Linked DNA regions of Homo sapiens. The protein of the gene in region 2 purifies or fractionates together with the protein of the main gene of each other region. This does not show direct contact. Each region holds a gene or a part of one and is shown on either strand. Other genes may lie near its edges.

Region 1 (3,826 bases), on a different chromosome or scaffold from region 2:
TAATGTAGACACTAGCCATATGAAGGTAGCGTAATTTTATTCACTAACACGTAATTTTATTTACTAAAATTACATCAAATAAAAAATTCAGTTCCTTAGTCACATTAGCCACAGTGCAAGGGCTCAAGAGCCACACGTCAACAGTAGCTAATGTATTTGAAGCTCGAATAGAGAGTTACCTCCCTCCCTCCATCCCTCCCTCCTTCCTTCCTTTCTCTCTCTTTTTTTTTTGAGATGGAGTTTTGCTCTTGTCACGCAGGCTGGAGTGCAATGGTGCGATCTCGGCAACCTCCGCCTCCCGGGTTCAAGCAATTCTCCTGCCTCAGCCTCCAGAGTAGCTGGGATTACAGGTGCCCACCACCATATCCGGCTAGTTTTTTTTGTATTTTTATTAGAGATGGGGTTTCACCATGTTGGCCAGGCTGGTCTTGAACTACCAACCTTAGGTGATCCACCGCGCCAGGCTTCCCTCTCCCTCTCCTCCCTCTCCCACTCCCTCTCCCTCCCCTTCTCTCGACAAGTCTTGCTCTGTTGTTCAGGCTGGAGTGCAGTGGCATGATCATGGCTCACTGCAGCTGCAAACTCCTGGGCTCAAGAGATCCTCCTGCCTCAGACTACCAAGTAGCTGGGACTACAGGTGTGTGCTAACACACCTGGCTAATTTTTTTGTTTTTTGTTTTTGTAGAGACAGGGTCTTGCCATCTTGCCCAGGCCGGTCTTGAACTCCTGAACTCAAGAGGTACTCCTGCCTTGGCCTCCCAAAGTGCTAGGATTATAGGCATGAGCCACCATGCCTGGCTGAGAGTTGTTTTCATCATTGTAGAAAGTTCTACTCAAGAGCCTTGAAGTAAATGATCATCTATTTCTTAGATAAGCTTTTGGTTAATCCAAAAATGACTATATTTTTCCTGGTCACACACTTTTCACGTAATAAAGACTAACTGGACTTGATGTCAGCTCAAATGTGCAGGGAGAAAGAAATACAGAATGATTTATATTAAATGACTAGTACACCTATACTATCCATACGTTTCAGTAAACGTATACCTATTTTACTATTTTGAAAATACAAGTTAACATATGCGTGTGACTATTTATGAGGAAAAAATCACAACCTTAATAAAGCATAAAGGAAAACCTAGTGTCTAATGCATATTCCTGCCTCAGGGAAATCTGGAATGAAGAGAGAGGGCAGGAAAATCTATTCCCAGAGTAGTAACTAAAAAATGCATCTAGTGGCTCTAAGTTTCTCTAAAAATCTCCTTAAAAATAGCTATAGAAAAGCCCTTTCTAATTCTATTAATAAAATGAAGGCACTCAGGCACTTTCTAATTTGTTTCAAAAGAAAGCAGAAATCATTCAGCAGAATGAAAATTTTGGTCAGTACTCTGACTATAATAACACTAAATATAATTTGTGAATTATTATATTAGTGTGGTGCCAGTTTAACTGATTTAGAATACACTTTAGAATATTCATGAAATATGACTTCAAGTGTATAATATGTATTTGCACATACATGATTTAACAGCAACTTTATTATTTCTAATTTTAAAAAAAAGAGTACCACACCCCTCTTGGTCAGGAATATAAATTCATTTATGATGGTGTTTCTGTAAGAAAATCAGATACATATTTACAGAACTGTTATAGGAAGGTAACCTGTCAAAACTTCAAGGACAACTTAAAATGTTTTTAGTATATAACTTATCAAAGCTGAATATTTTCAAACTACATCAACTTAAGTACATTTACAATAAAACTCTACACTAGCAAGCATGTTAAAATGGTATAGAATTTGCAATAGCAAAAAAATTCTCCTATTAAAAACTTAGTCAACACTTCAAGTGTGCTAAGTTGCTCACTTACTCCTTCCAGCAATTCTCAGAAGTATGGAGTGGCTCTAATTTACAACTGAAGAAACTGAGTTGAGATGAAGAAACTAAGGCTCAAAATGAAAGATGACTTACTTAAGGTTATAGAGTCAGCTACTATAGAGGCAAGATTTGAACCTTGGTTTGGATTTTTCTAAAACTTAAGCTATTCATGAAAATTTCACAATTAATTTTTAGGGAAAGAGCTCATGTCTTCATTCTTTCCAAAACACTTACTGAGTGCCCATTATGCACCAAGTACTATTTCTAAGGGTTTCTAAGTATTTCTAAGATGTAAATGTTGAACCAGACAATGTCCCTGCCCCCTTGAAGCTGACATGCCAATGCAAGAAGGGGCATTCCAGCAGAGTTAGGAGCATGACCCAGCAGCTAGTCACTCAGGCTTGAATCCTTAATATACCATTTATAACTATGTGATATTAGTCAAGTTGCTTTATCTCTCTGTGCCCATATTTTCTCATTTAAAAAATAAAAATAAAAATAAAAATTGTACTGACTCACTAGATTGCTCTGAGGATTAGTAGATTAATACATGTAAAGCACACAATAAATGCTTTATTAGTGCTTGCTATTTTTATTATTGCCATGAGTGTAGAGAGACAAATAACAGACACACATATAAATGAGAGTACAGTAGATAGTGATAAATGCTGTGAAAAAAATGAAAAGTGGTCTTTGCTTCATATTTTCTAGAGATTCTTTCCTAAAGTCACTTATAAAAGCTGATAAAAGTCTTAATTAATTTATTCAATAAATACTGGCTGAGTGTCTATTTAATTTGTCCAGCACCATGCTCAGTGCTAAATAAGACAAACATGTAGCTCCCTCATGAAGTCTAGCAAGAAAGACAGATAGTAAACAGATAATCACACAAATATATAATTAGAGTAAATCAGTAAATGGAAGTGTACGATGAGAACCCATAATGAGAGCCTAACCCGGTTCAAAGATTACAGGAAGGACTGCCTGAGGAAGTTACACTTAAATGCTTCATCATCTGGATAGCCCTGGCAAAAAAGCCTAGAAACAACTAGATGGGAGAAAGAATGTTACATCTTAGCAGCTTTACGGCCTTAGGTAGAGGAAACTGTACAGAGGAGAGCAAAAAGTATTTTTTTATTTTGTTTTTCTTTTTGGACCAAGACAACAAGTATCCAAAATTAATGACTTTTCATTAGATAATATTTTTAACTTATGAAACAATGTGGAAAACTGAGAATCATTACGTTTTAGATTAATAACAATTCATATATCATTCCTAAAGACTACCATCAGCCCAAACAAAATACTTGATAATTATAGGAACCTATGAACATCCTCGCACTTATCTAGCAAGGTCTTAATGCTTAAAAATTTTTGGTTCTAATACCTACATCTAGAGTTTATTTGTAGGTAGTAGCTGCTGAGTTCCCAGGGGAGCAAAAAAATGAGTTCACTCTTCCCGCCCTCAAGGATCTTATTTAATCATATGGTTGAGGAAACAGAGGATATCAAAAGAAAAAAAAACAAGAAGAAGGGAAACACTTACGGAGTCCACAATCTTGGGAAGGCGTCTATTTCTTCTTGTGTGTACTCATCTAGACGTTTAGGTATTTTTCGTGGTTGAGGAAGCTCCTCTACTAAATTCTTAAGAATATCTTCTGGAATATACTACATTAAAAAAAAATTTAGACTTAATTTTCTTAAAATATCTTTCTTAGCAATAAATTACTAATACTTCATAAGTGTTAAAAAAATAAGCAAAAGAATGCTCGTAGAATAAGGAAAACATAAAATCTTTAAAATAAAAACCTTATAAAAATTCCCCAAAAGTACATTAGGTTAATAATACAAGTAATCCCATTATAATAAGATACCTATTTTTTAAAATGTGCTGTTTATTTCCCTCTTTTCAATTGCAAAAAGACACTGCTATGGCTCATTCTCATGCT
Region 2 (3,826 bases):
AAGGGGCAATTCCACTGGTGCACTCTTTCTTGTTTTGCTTCTAGGGGTCCGTCCCATTCTTAATCTTTGCCCTTTCTTGTCTCTTTCACATAACTCTAAGACTCAGAGTTTTTTAATCTTTTCTTCTACTTCTCACTTCTTAACCAATATAGAAGACAAAAATAACATTTTAATTTTATATATTTCTCATTCAAATTAAAAAAGAAAGATGAGCCAGTTCAGTTCATATTTTGCACTAAAACTAATTTAACATTCCAAAGTTAAATTATTTGTGATCAACAAAAGGAAAAACATCTTACCCTATTAGCACCATCTGACATTTTCATCACCTTAGCATCATTAAATACAACAGGTCTGAGGTTGGAACTATAAAAAAATACCAAAAATCCCCAACCCCATTCATAATGCACACCACAGTTCAGGTAAGAACAAAAACTCACCATTATCTTTATTTTCTTTCAAAAACCCATTAACAGCGTGTTTGAATTTAAAAATAGTCTCATCATCAGGCACTTGATGTCCAACTGTAAAAATTTTTAAGTAAGGAACAGTTTCTGGCAAATCCTATAAAGCAAAACCATAAAAGATGTGTATTATTTCACTTGTAGAGAAATAATTAAAGAGTAATTAGGGGACCCAGAATATAAGCCAAGAGATTATAACAAACTTAATATGCCAATATCAGTATACACAATTCTGATAAAAGAGCCATTTTTTCCAACACTGCTTCAACCAGGAAGTATCACTTGATTTTCAATAAAACTACATAATAGATAGTCACTAGGTATACAAAACTGAAAGCAAATTCCATGTGAATGAATGCATATTTAACTATAAATTATATAAACAGTTCCATTTAATATTTTATAATTCAAGGGCCAGTGCCTTCATAAAGCAGCTATGATTTAAGTAGAAGAGTAGAGAATAGAGTCAGAAGAACTTGGATTTGAATTGTGAGATAGAGGGAATTCCAGGCACTATTGAGAACCGATATTCTTGGGGTGGGAGAAAAGTAGATACAGATAAAAGACAGAAGAGGCTAAGTCAAAATCATTTTAACCATCCACAAGTGTATAGTTCAGTGGCATTACATTCACAGTATTGTGTAACCATCACCACTGTCTATACCCAAAACTTTTTCATCATCCCCGACAAAAAGACTCTGACCACTAAACCATAATTCCCTTTTCTCCCCACCTCATAGATCCTTTAGTCTGCTTTCTGTCTCTGTGAATTTGTCTATTCTAGGTACTTCATACAAGTGGAATCATATATTTGTCCTTCTGTGTCTGGTTTATTTCACTAAGCATGTTTTTAAGGTTCATCCATATTGTAGCACGTATTAAATCTATTCTTTTTTATGGCTGAATAATATTCCATTTAAGACAGCAATTAAAAACATGTAATTAGAGAAATCACTTGGTTCTCTTTTAAACTTACTACCCATCAAAGAAGGCCAAGCTTCACATTAGCACAAGATGATTACTGAATTACTATAAATTATTTTAGGATCAGAAGGAAGAAAGTTCTTTTCATTGAAGGGTTCCACTTACCTCTGGTTTATAATAGCGTTGAGTATATGTTAAATCAATAATCAGTCCAAGTTCTTCATTTTGTTCTCGGATTTTGTTAAAAAGATCCAAAGGGGAAAAGCATTCTTCTGGAGCAAGTTTCTTTTCAAAACTCTGTCACAGAGAATGAAATAAGAGCAAATATGTGCTTAAAATCCTGTACTACATTAGGCATTTATTCAAGTCCTGTGATGCTAACATACAACGAGATTCAAAGGAAAGTTTCCATTCTCCTGGAACATAGAAGGTATATTACAACAATCCTTTCTTCCAGAGTGGTCAGAAAGAAAAAAATAAGCCCACTTCTATATATGTATTTCTGTATTTGTTTCATGTTGGTCTCCTAATCAGACTGTAATCTCCCAGATTTTATTCACCACTGTATCTCCAGCTCCAGGTGGAGTGCTTATCATATTTAGTGCTTATAAATATTTCTTTTCTTTTTTTTTTTTTTTTTTTGAAACAGGGTGTTGCTCTGTCATCCGTCATCCAGGCTGGAGTGCAGTGACACAAACATGGCTCACTGCAGCCTCCACCTCCTGGGCTCAAGCAATACTCCCACCTCAACCTCACAAGTAGCTGGGACTACAGGCATGAACCACCACACCTGGCCTTTTTTTTTTTTTTTTAAAGAGATAGGGTCAGCTGGGCGCAGTGGTTCACACCTGTAATCCCAGCACTTTGGGAGGCCAAGGCGGGAGGATCACAAGGTCAGGAGATCGAGACCATCCTGGCTAACACTGTGAAACCCCGTCTCTACTAAAAATACAAAAAATTAGCCAGGGGTGGTGGCAGGCGCCTGTAGTCCCAGCTACCGGGAGGCTGAGGCAGGAGAATGGCGTGAACCCGGGAGGCAGAGCTTGCAGTGAGCCGAGATCACACCACTGCACTCCAGCCTGGGTGACAGAGTGACTCCATCTCAAAAAAAAAATTTAAAAAAAAAAAAAAAAAAAAAAAAGAGATAGGGTCTTGCCGTCTTGCCATGTAGCCCAGGCTGATCTCAAACTCCTGAGCTCAAGCAACCCTCCTGTCTCGGCCTCACAAATAAATATTTCTCACATGTCTACATATATGAAGGATGGCTTTCATTGCTGAATATTCTTTTATGTATGTGGCTTATTTTTGAACTTTATGCTCTGTTCCTTCAATCTGTCTGGCTACTCAGGTGCCAGCAATGTACTTTTTAAAAAATAGACTAGTTTGGCTGGGTGCGGTGGCTCAAGCCTGTAATCCCAGCACTTTGGGAGGCCGAGGCAGGAGGATCACGAGGTCAGGAGATCGAGACCATCCTGGCTAACACGGTGAAACCCCATCTCTACTAAAAACACAAAAAAATTAGCCAGGCGTGGTGGCAGGCGCCGGTAGTTCCAGCTACTCAGGAGGCAGAGGCAGGAGAATGGCGTGAACCCAGGAGGCAGAGCTTGCAGTGAACCAAGATCACACCACTGCACTCCAGCCTGGGCGACAAGCGAGACACCATCTCAAAAAAAAAAAAAAAAAAATAGACTAGTTTTCAGAGCAGTTTTAGGTTCACAGCAAAACTGAGCCAAAAGGACAGATAGTTCCCACATGTACTTTGCCTTCCCCAACCCACCCAGACTCCCCCACTATCCACATTCCATACCAGTGTGGTCCATTTGTTACAAATGAAGAACCAACTCTGACACATCGTTATCACCAAAGTCTAGAGGTTAGGTATGCGTGATTCATTCTATGTTATGCATTGTATGTACATATTATGTTATATATATTTTGCCACAAAAAAAATGAGAGAAAGAACTAAGTTCAAGTTTTGATTCTTCCTTTTCTGAGCCTGTTTGATTATCTACAAAATTATTTATTAGATGTAACCATCTATTCTCTGAGCTTAGTGCAGAATAAGCACTCAGTAAGAGATATTAGTACTACTGCTACTTCATCAGCACAGGATTGTTGTGAAATGTGTTAATATACGTGAAGCCCTTTTATAGGTTTTGATCAATATATAACATGTATCCACCCTTAGAGTATCACACAGAATAGTTTCACTTCCCTAAAAATTCCCTGTGTCTCCAACACCTTCTTTTTGGAGACAGGGTCTTGCTCTGTTGCCCAGGCTGGAGTACAGTGGCATGATCATGGCTCACTGCAGCCTTGACCTCCTGGGTTCAATCGATCCTCCCACTTCAGCCTCCTGAGCAGCTGAGACTACAAGCACACGCCACCGCGCCTGGTTAATTTTTGTATTTTTTGTAGAGACACGGTTTCAGTGTTGC

The links.
Region 1: the proteins of DUSP11 (region 2) and MRPL13 purify together in Homo sapiens (affinity purification with mass spectrometry, with the first as the bait; one large-scale study listed by BioGRID). This does not show direct contact.

Annotation. Positions count from the first base shown.
Region 1 is NC_000008.11:120,410,568-120,414,393, forward strand, and holds part of MRPL13 (large ribosomal subunit protein uL13m), read right to left. Parts: intron 3,546-3,826; coding exon 3,424-3,545; intron 1-3,423.
Region 2 is NC_000002.12:73,773,360-73,777,185, forward strand, and holds part of DUSP11 (RNA/RNP complex-1-interacting phosphatase), read right to left. Parts: intron 1,686-3,826; coding exon 1,554-1,685; intron 565-1,553; coding exon 441-564; intron 1-440. UniProt on the Homo sapiens protein: Possesses RNA 5'-triphosphatase and diphosphatase activities, but displays a poor protein-tyrosine phosphatase activity. In addition, has phosphatase activity with ATP, ADP and O-methylfluorescein phosphate (in vitro). Binds to RNA.